3 linked regions of the Homo sapiens genome follow. Changing the gene in region 2 together with the main gene of any one other region gives a genetic interaction. Each region holds a gene or a part of one and is shown on either strand. Other genes may lie near its edges.

Evidence for each region.
Region 1: changes in SDHC (region 2) and PAFAH1B1 together harm fitness more than expected from each alone (negative genetic interaction), as found in Homo sapiens cells (one large-scale study listed by BioGRID).
Region 3: changes in SDHC (region 2) and NCBP1 together harm fitness less than expected from each alone (positive genetic interaction), as found in Homo sapiens cells (one large-scale study listed by BioGRID).

The regions. Positions count from the first base shown.
Region 1 is NC_000017.11:2,677,154-2,680,653, reverse strand, and holds part of PAFAH1B1 (platelet-activating factor acetylhydrolase IB subunit beta), read right to left. Parts: intron 491-3,500; coding exon 334-490; intron 1-333. UniProt on the Homo sapiens protein: Regulatory subunit (beta subunit) of the cytosolic type I platelet-activating factor (PAF) acetylhydrolase (PAF-AH (I)), an enzyme that catalyzes the hydrolyze of the acetyl group at the sn-2 position of PAF and its analogs and participates in PAF inactivation.
Region 2 is NC_000001.11:161,317,244-161,320,906, forward strand, and holds part of SDHC (succinate dehydrogenase cytochrome b560 subunit, mitochondrial isoform 1 precursor), read left to right. Parts: intron 1-3,663. UniProt on the Homo sapiens protein: Membrane-anchoring subunit of succinate dehydrogenase (SDH) that is involved in complex II of the mitochondrial electron transport chain and is responsible for transferring electrons from succinate to ubiquinone (coenzyme Q).
Region 3 is NC_000009.12:97,664,821-97,668,320, forward strand, and holds part of NCBP1 (nuclear cap-binding protein subunit 1), read left to right. Parts: intron 1-1,942; coding exon 1,943-2,057; intron 2,058-3,500. UniProt on the Homo sapiens protein: Component of the cap-binding complex (CBC), which binds cotranscriptionally to the 5'-cap of pre-mRNAs and is involved in various processes such as pre-mRNA splicing, translation regulation, nonsense-mediated mRNA decay, RNA-mediated gene silencing (RNAi) by microRNAs (miRNAs) and mRNA export.

The sequences.
Region 1 (3,500 bases), on a different chromosome or scaffold from region 2:
GTTGAGGAAGATTTTGTTTGAGAAACAAACTAATAGGGGAGAAAAATTACCCATCAGAGTGGTAAGTAACCTCTTCACAAATTGTGGTTTCCAAAACCAATGTTGTGCAGTGGAGAAAGTAATGTTTTTATTATAAGGCTAACGATGGAAAGAGTTAACGGGAAAGGAGAATTTAAAACAAATGGTAGGAATCCACAAGATTTTCATGTCTTCTCTATTCTGCCCTGAAAGCACAGTCATTTCTTACCTGGCAAAGTCCACACGATTATGTAAAACACAGTTTGTCTGGCACTCCAAAATCTAATGTTCAGAGACCTCGCGAGGCGTACATACCCAAGGAGGTAACAAAGTGTTCATGCGCATTGAGGGTCTTCATGCATCGCTTGTTCTTGTAATCCCATACGCGTAGGGTCTTGTCATCAGCACAACTCAAAATAAACTTCCCCCCAGAATGGAACAGAACTCCACGTACCCAGTTATCATGACCCACCTTAAAAACAAAAAAGTTATTTGACTCAGTAAAAGGCAAAATGTTTAAATAGCATCTATTTCATAATACGATAAAACTATACATACCAAAAACATCAAAAGACCAGAAGAAAATAAAAGTCTAGGGGATTCTAGATTAAAGGAAACTGAAAACTCATAAGACATGAGGAGTGAATATAACGTACGATCCCTGACTGGGTCCTGGATGAGGGTTAAAAAGAAGTCCCGCAGGGCATTATGGAAATAACAAGAACAAATCTCAATATGTAGTCTATCAATGGTAAATTTCTTGAGTGTGAATAATTTTATTTTGGTTATTTATATACTATCCTTGTTCTTAGGTGGTTCATGCTAAAATACTTGGGGGTAAAGTGTTACGATGTCTGCAAAGAACGCTCAAATGATTTCAGCAAAATATACACACATACATGAAGGAAAACCAACAAATGGTAACTAAGTGAAGGATATACAGGCATTCACTATATATCTATATATCCATCCATCCATCCATCCATCCATCCATCCATCCATCCAATCATCCAATCATCCATCCATCCACCCACCCACCCATCTATCTATCCATCCAATCATCCATCTAATCATCCATCTAATCATCCATCCATCCATCCATCCATCCAATCATCCATCCATCCATCCATCCAATCATCCATCCATCCATCCATCCAATCATCCATCCATCCATCCAATCATCCATCTATCCATCCAACCATCCAATCATCCATCTATCCATCCATCCAATCATCCATCCATCCATCCATCCAATCATTCATCCATCTAATCATCCATCCATTTAATCATCCATCCATCTATCCATCCATATTTCCCCTGTCGCAGCAGTTCTGTTCTTGCAATTTATCTTTAAGGACATGCCCAGAGATTTAGTTAGCAAAGATGTTCACAAAGCATTGTCTGTAGATCAGTGTAGAAGAGCATCTAACAACATAAGCAAGGATCACATACTTTCTAAATTAAAGGTTTGCTACAAAGCTACCTTAAGGGGCATGATACCATTTTTATAAAAAATAGCACATTCATCTACACATTAAAGAAAAAGGCTTAGAACTGCACAGTTGAACATGGTAGCTACTGTCCATGTACGCCTACTTTAATATATAATATTAAGATTACATACAACCAACAATTCAGTTCTTCAGTCTCACTAGCCACATTTCAAGAGTATAATAGCTGCATGTGGCTAGTAGCTACCACGCTGGATAGTGCAGTTATAGCACAGCACTGCAAAATTTTGTTTTGTTTTAAAAAGAGACAGCAACTCTGTTGCCCAGGCTGGAGTATAGTGGCATGATCACGGCTCACTAAAGCCTCAAATTCCTGGGTTCAAGTAATCCTCCTGCCTTAGCCTCCCAAGTAGCTAGGACTATAGGCATGCATCATCATGCATGACTAATTTTTAAACTTTTATTTTGGTAGAGACAGGGTCTTGTTATGTTGCTCAGGCTGGTCTCAAACTCCTGGGCTCCTCCTGCCTTGGCCTCCCAAAGTCCTGGGATTACAGGTGTGAGCCACTGTGCCTGGCCAAGAGTATGTTTTTCTTGTTTCTTTTCTTTTTTTTTCCTGGAGACAGAGTCTTACTTCACTGCCCAGGATGGAGGGCAATGGTGCGATCTCGGCTCACTGCAACCTCCGTCTCCCAGGTGCAAACGATTCTCAAGCCTCAGCCTCCCGAGTAGCTGGGATTACAGACGTGCGCCACCATGCCCGGGTTTTTTTTTTTTTTTTTTTGAGATGGTTTCACTCTTGTTGCCCAGGCTGGAGTACAATGGCGTGATCTTGGCTCACTGCAACCTCCGCCTCCCAGGTTAAAGTGATTTGCCTGCCTCAGCCTTCCCAAGTAGCTGGGATTACAGGCATGTGCCACCATGCCTGGCTAATTTTGTGTTTTTAGCAGCGATGGGGTTCCTCCATGTTGGTCAGGCTGGTCTCGAACTCCCAACCTCAGGTGATCCACCCATCTCGGCCTCCCAAAGTGCTGGGATTACAGGCGTGAGCCACCGCGCCTGGCCACGCCCGGCTAATTTTTGTAATTTTAGTAGAGACGGGGTTTCACCATGTTGGCCAGGCTGGTCCTGAACTCCTGACCTCAGGTGATCCACCTGCCTCAGCCTCCAAAAGTGCTGGGATTGCAGGAGTGAGCCACTGCGCCTGGCCTGCTTTATTTTAATTATATATCATCTTTTCTTAACAGCAACATGGTATAGCTGAACTCCGCTCAGAATACTACTAGAGGAGAGTTTCATTTTCTTTTTATTTATTTATTTATTTATTTTTTGAGGCGGAGTCTCGCTCTGTCGCCCAGGCTGGAGTACAGTGGTGCCATCTCCGGTCACTGCAAGCTCCGCCTCCCGGGTTCACGCCATTCTCCTGCCTCAGCCTCCCAAGTAGCTGGGACTACAGGCACCCGCCAGGATGCCCGGCTAATTTTTTGTATTTTTAGTAGAGACGGGGTTTCACCATGTTAGCCAGGATGGTCTCAATCTCCTGACCTCGTGATCTGCTCGCCTCGGCCTCCCAAAGTGCGGGGATTACAGGCGTGAGCCACCGTGCCCGGCCGAGAGTTTCATTTTCTAATCAGTTCTTGAAGATGCTTCCACATATGTCTGTCATATCCTACAGAGAGACAATCACTTCAAGGTATCATTAGCACCTAAAAAATCTCTAAACAAATGTGGATGCCAAATTATAAAAACTACTACTAAACAAACATCCACAGATCTCCTTGGAACTCCTTTAGGCACATAGGAATGTCCACAATCCCTTACTAGTATTGACATATCTTTCTATGGAAATACAGATGCTCCTAAATAAGCCAAATAAACTAGATCATGTGAGCAAGGAGGTATAACAGTTAAAAGGATTCATATAAATAAAGTGAAACAGAGAAACAAACATCTTCAACAGTGAACAGGTCTCTAAGAATGCTGCTTTTTCTCCGTAAGAGATATTACACATTTGTTTTATTTTATTTTTTT
Region 2 (3,663 bases):
GGTCTTAAATTCCTGACCTCATGATCCATCCGCCTCGGCCTCCCAAAGTGCTGAGATTACAGGCATGAGCCACAACGCTTGGCCTTTATTTTTATTTTTGGTTAAACTTAAAAAATTTTTTTATTTACTTATTTTAATTGGCAAATAAAAATTGTATATATGGTGTACAACACGATGTTTTGAAATATGTGTACCTTGTGGAGCTATTGACATATGCATTACATCTTTGTGGGGGAACACTTGAAATCTATTCTTAGTGATTTTCAAGTATGCAATGCCTTGGTTTTGTGTGTGTGTGTGTGTGTGGTTTTTTTTTTTTTTTTTTTTTTTTTTTTTGAGACAGAGTCTCACCCTGTCGCCCAGGCTGGAGTGCAGTGGCGCAATCTCAGCTCACTGTAACCTCTGCCTCCTGGGTTCAAGCGATTCTCCTGGCTCAGCCTCCCAAGCAGCTAGGACTACAGGCGTGTGCCACCATGCCAGGCTAATTTTGTATTTTTAGTAGAGACGGGGTTTCACCATGTTGATCAGGCTGGTCTTGAACTCCTGACCTCAGGTGATCCACCTGAGCCAGGCATCAGCCACCGAGCCAGGCATAAGCCACCACGCCGGGCCAATGTAACAACATAATAACATAATAATAACAATTGTGGCTGGGCATGGTGGCTCATGCCTGTAATCCCAGCACTTTGGGAGGCTGAGGCTGTCAGATCACAAGGTCAGGAGATCAAGACCATCCTGGCCAACATGATGAAACCCCATCTCTACTAAAAATACAAAAATTAGCCGGGTGTGATGGTGCGCGCCTGTCGTCCCAGCTACTCGGGAGGCTAAGGCAGGAGAATCGTTTGAACCTGGGAGGCGGAGGTTGCAGTGAGCTGAGATCATGCCACTGCACTGCAGCCTGGGCAACAGAGCAAGACTCCATCTCAAAAAAAAAAAAATTGTACTGTGTTATACAATAGATCTCTTGAACTTATTCCTCCCTTCTAACTGACATTTTGTATCCTTTGACCAACTTCTTCCCCTTCCCCCTCCCCCGCATATAAACATGTTTATGCTTGGCTAATTAAGAATTATTAGTTATCAGAGTATTGTATTGTCATGGCTTTTGAATATATGCTCTCTATTTTGTATGTTCTCTAAACAGTTCAGGGACCAGCTAGAGATGAACAACCAGCTAAGTAACACAAACCATTGGCACTCAGTCAAGGAATGACTTGCCAAGGCCAAGGAGTTAGAGAACTAAGCTAAGGACAGCTAGGCTTCTATGTAATAATGTTCATGCTCCTTAAACACAAAGTCACCAAGAGTCATTAACTATCTGGCCAGTACTCATTGTATTAAATGCCGTATGTGAAATGCCCCTAAATATTAAGGTTTAACTCTCAATTTATGAAACTGCTTTTTAAAATAAGCATATTCATTCACAAACCTTTTTATTTTGTTATTTTTATTTTTTTTAACCTTTTTCTTTGTGTCAGACATTATTATAGGTACTGTGGATCCAAGGCCAGGTGCAGTGGCTCATGCCTGTAATGCCAGCACTTTGGGAGGCCGAGGCGGGAGGATCACCTGAGGTCAGGAGTTCAAGACCAGCCTGACCAACATGGAGAAACCTCGTCTCTACTAAAAATACAAAAATTTGCTGGGCGTGGTTGTGGGTGCCTGTGGGTGCTGGTAATCCCAGCTACTTGGGAGGCCGAGGCAGGAGAATCACTTGAACCTGGGAGGCGGAGGTTGCAGTGAGCCAAGATTGTGCTGTTGCACTCCAGCCTGGGTGACAAGAGCAAAACTCCATTTCAAAAACAAACAAAAAACAGAAACAAAATTAGCTAGGTTTGGAGGCACATGCCTGTAATCCCAGCTACTCAGAAGGCTGAGGCAGGAGAATCGCTTGAACTCGGGAAGTGGAGGTTGCTGTGAGCTGAGATCGTGCCATTGCACTCCAGCCTGGGCAATAGGAGCGAAACTCTGTCTTAAAATAAATAAATAAATAAATAAATAAATAAAGTACTGTGGTACTATGGATCCAAAATATTTTGATAGTTTGAGCTCAAAGTCTAGCAGGGAGATAAATAGATTAATTATTAAACCACATAAGAAATATTGATAGATATGAACAAGTGTGAGAGCAAGGCAGATATAGCAAGTAAGGCTAAAGAAGTGATCTTGCTATCCAGGAATTGGTTGTTTTTTTTTTTTTGGTTTTGGTTTTTTTTTTGAGACTGAGTCTCGCTCTGTCGCCCAGGGTGGAGTGCAGTGGTGTGATCTTGGCTCACTGCAACCTCTGCCTCCTGGGTTCAAGTGATTCTCCTACCTCAGCCACCCGGGTAGCTGGCATTACAGGGGTGTGCCAGTATGCCTGGCTAATTTTTGTATTTTTACTAGAGGTGGGGTTTCACCATGTCGGCCAGGCTTGTCTCAACCTCCTGACCTCAAGTGACCCACCCACCTTGGCCTCCCATAGTGCTGGGATTACAGGCATGAGCTACCACGCCGGCCCTTAGGAATTGAGTTTTGAAGGATGAGTTTAACAGGCTCTGAGGGAGGCTCTATTCAGAGAACAGCATGAGCAAAGGCATGTGGTCAAAAGATGGTTTGCTGTAGCTGGACATAATGTAATGTTCAGTGTGGCAGAATTACAGTGGATTGAAAGGAATTTGTGGGAGGTTAGGTCCAGAGAGTTGGCCACGTTGTGAAGTGCGTTGTTTGCCCACAGTTTGGATCTTATACTGTAAGCAGCGGGAAATTGTTAAAGACTTTTAGGCAGGAGAATGATGAAACCATGTTATTTTATTTATTTTTCAGTAAATTAGTGTTGGTGTTATTGAATGATATGTAAGAGATTGGTGCGAGGGAGATCAGTTCAGGAGCTCTTGTTACAGTCCTAGTGAGAAACGAAGAGGATATAGACTATAGCAATGGATTGGAATGAATTTTCCTAGCTGTTAATGATAGGATTGGGTGATGCCATCATATGGGGGGGGTGGTGAAAGAAAAGAAATCAAGGATGACTTAGGTTATAGTTTGGTAGTTGGGTGGTAATAATCATTAACCAGAACTTTTGTATACAAATTATTATTCATCATGCCATTCAAAGTTATATATCTATTTTATTGTTGCTGTTACCTAGACATTTATGAAACTTTTTGGTATACCATCAGATCAAGTTTAGAAACTCATTATATTACAGTCATATAATGTATGACTATAATAAGATAAATTATAGTCACATCTTGTTTTGGACTAAAAATGGTATTCAGTTTGATCACATAGACTTGGCTTTGAATAACTTTTTTTTTCCAGAAATCAAATTTATTTTCAGTGGATGAGTATTTTTGTCACCACTGAGGGTTTTAAAAAGAATGTGATGCAAATTCTAAAGACCTCGGGGAGACCAGTGATAATATGTTACATATATATGTGGTGTATTGTAGTTTAGACAATGCTTTCCTGTATGTTTTCTTGTGCAGTCCCCTCAGCAACCAATAAGGTAGGTATTATCAATCCCATTTTATAACTGAAAACGCTGAAGCTCAATGACTCACTCAAGTTATACAACTTATTCTAAGACTTCAGTCTTGATTTTTTTTTTTTTTTTTGAGATGGAGTCCCGCTCTGTCACCAGGCTGGAGTGCAGTGGCCCAATCCCAGCTCACTGCA
Region 3 (3,500 bases), on a different chromosome or scaffold from region 2:
GAAGTAGGAGAAATCAAAGTCAAAGTAGAGTAAATCATGGAGGGATCCAGGAAAGCTTGGTGATTAACAAGACACCTGAGGGATGGGGGAAAGGGGTTCTCACCACAGTCATAATCTTAGGTTTAATGCAGAAGATTCATTCTGCCCTCATTCCCCCTAACGGAAAGAAAGTTTTTGCTGTTTGGTTCTTATTTATGAAGTTCACGGACTTTACAGCTGATAGGACCAGGGCAGCAGGAGTTGACACAAAGCAGGAAACTAAAGCAAATTACTTGTAAAAACATAAAAGTCCATCACAACCTTTAACTTTTCCACTGTATCTGTTACTGCCAGAGGACACTGATCAGAAATATACTGAATTGTTAGGGTGATAGGGTGTGATCTAAGGTTGTCATACCGGCCAGGTTGGCCTTCATAAACAAAGACAACAGAAGAACCTTTTCAGATTTGTAAACTCTCAGAAAACTAACCACCCGAGTATGTTTTAACCATTGTCCTGAGTGATTTACGTTTTCAATTCATTTTATCCTTACCGCATCACCGTAGAGAAGGTTCCATTATTGTCCACATTTTACAGAATAGGGAAGTGTCACAGAGTGCTTTATCCTGCCCAAAGTCACACAACTAAGTGCAGAGCCAGCATTCAAACCCAGGCATTCTGGAATCTGTATAGTGCTCAACAGCTCCATCTGTTCTTTAACACCTAGCTCAAATATTTGTAACTCTGCAAACCTTTCCCTGACTATAGTCCACCCCCTCCAGAGTTAAAGTGCTCTGCTCTTTTGTCCTGTTTCCTAACATTCTAGACTTGGAGTTTTATGAACAGATTGTTTTATTATCTTCCACTTAAACTATTATTTGGGTCAAAATTTGTAGAAGGAAGTACAGTTCACCCTTGAACAACAACAGGGGTTAGAGACACCGACTTCGCCCCACCCACCCCACCCCACACAGTCAAAAATCTGCATAGAACTTTTAACTGCATGGAAAATTTAACTAGTAGCCTACTGTTGACCAGAAGCCTTAGTGATAACGTAGTCAATTAACACATATTTGTGTTGTATGTGTTATATCCTGTATTCTTACAATAAATCATAAGAGAGGAAACATTCATGAAGTGAGAGTGGATCATCATAAAGGTCATCTTCATTATCTTCACATTGAGTAGGCTGAGGAAGAGGAGGGGTTGGTCTTATTGACTCAGGTGGAAGAAAACCCATGTGTAAATGGACCTGCACAGTTCAAACCTGTATTGTTCAAGGGCCAACTGTACTATTCTGTGCTGGGTTAGGAGACCTAGTTTATAGACACAAAAGTAGCTGAGAAGTTACTTTTTAAAAGAAAAACACTTATGCAACAAACATTTCAAAGCACCTACAAAGTGATCTTAGTATGTATTTGCTAGTAAGAAAGCTGACATATAATTATCTCATTCTTAGAGCCCATCAGTTGATACCTATTATCAACTAATGAGTTTCTTAAACATTCCAAGAGAATAATTGGCTGAGTGTGTGCTAGTTAAATAATATAAAGCATGGGAAATAAGTCTCAGGTTAGGTCACCATTTTGAGAAAATTTCTACACATAATGTTTACATTTAGGAGAGGAAAAATGTATTTCCATTTTTAATGTTAATGTCCATCATAGTTTGCCATTTCAATTCAGTAAGTATGTACCTCTGGTAAGGGATGGAAATAAGAAAAATGACTACACAGTGCTGCCCTCAGGGGGCTCGCCTGAATCTAATGGGTGTGAAGATAGATACTTGCACAATTTACAATAAAAGACCAATTTGTAAGTATTGCTGGAGAAAGATGACTAATTCAGCCCCAAGGACAGAAGGCTGTATCAGCTGTTAAGAATGAAATTACAAAAGTTGAAAGATTTTATTTTCTGTAACCATAGCTTGACATACAGTAACCAAATGCCATATTTCTTTAAGATTGTTTGTTTGGGAAATTTTGCACTCTACAATTCGTAAGATGAACAAACATGTCCTGAAGATCCAGAAAGAGCTGGAAGAAGCTAAAGAGAAACTTGCTAGGCAACACAAACGGGTAAGTTTTGTGTAAACTTGTAAGTAGTTAAAGAAAATATACCAGAAACTCTGGAGAGGATTCAGAGTTCATTATCTTGATGATATTTCATTTTTTCTGAGCCCAAATTAATGCAGAGCAGAAATTTTTCTGAGCCCAATTTAATGCAGAAGCAGAAGAGGAGGAAGGAGCAGGTAGTGTGTTGTGTGCTGTTACACTGCATGATGAACCAGTTCAGGAAGCCACAAACTTCACTTCCCATAGTTCACTATCTCTGGGTCGGCCTCACGTTTGCACAAGGGAAGTAGCAGAAGGGAAGAGGACACTTGTATTTCTGTAGGAGTCTCTGGGGGAAGAGGGAGAGGACTATAGATACTTAACACTTTCCCCGTACTGTGAGGAGGAATGGGGCAGTCATTCCCAAGTTAACGGAATACTTCTCATAGTATTAATTTAGTATTTTAGCCATTTTGGAGGGAAGCAGTGAGTGACTTAACATGATACTACTATTCATTATGAAAGTATTTTCCAGTGTTATGCATATTTACCATAGTAGAAGGTGAAAAAAAGTTGAGTTTAGTGCCCTATAGGAACCTTTCGCAAGTTTGAGTACCAGTCTCCATGTAGACATACCTGTATACATATATGGATATAAACACTCAGACCTGAAATACTGTAAGGTAAATGGTGTCATCTCATTTTGTAGATGTTATAAAGTGAGACATAGAGAAGTTAAGTAACATAGCTAGTAGGTTGCATAGCTGGTAAATGACCAGAGCTAGGTTCTGACACAGGTCTGTCAGACTCCAGAGACTTTTCTCTCATGCCACACTGTTTCTAGAAGTGTGCTGTCCAACACAGTAGCCACTAGCTGCACGTGACTATTTTAGTTAAATACAATTTAACATTCAGTTCTTTGGTCACACAACCATATTTCAGGTGCTCAGTAGTAACGTGTGGTTGCGGTCGTAACAGGCTGCACATATTTATATAACATTGGCCCCATTGAAGAAAGGTCTATCTATTAGGTAGTAGTGCTCTAGAACCTTACCTTTGAGTGGTGTTAGGAAAGGACAGTCGTGTACCCACGTGTCTAGAACATAGAGCAGACCTCATAAATGGGCTGTGTTTATAGAGAGAAAAGCAAGATTCTGTGATATCCGAGAGCAGGGTTCTGATAATTTTGCTTAAAGTGGAGAGATCAGTAGATGGGGCCTTAGCAGTTAAGTATTAACCTCGAAGAATTACCAGGCTTTCTAGATTCAGTGATGCCACCTTCTTGCTGAAAGTACCTTGGTATGTAACACCTTAGAGCCACGTTCTGGCTCTGCCACTTTCTGACTGGGTGATGCTGGGAAAGTCATCTAACCTCTCAGCCTTTTTTCTCTGTAAAATGGAAATAAACCATGCCTTGTTTTTCTTTTCCTTTAAAAAGAAAAAATTAAATTCTATAAACTCTTCAGA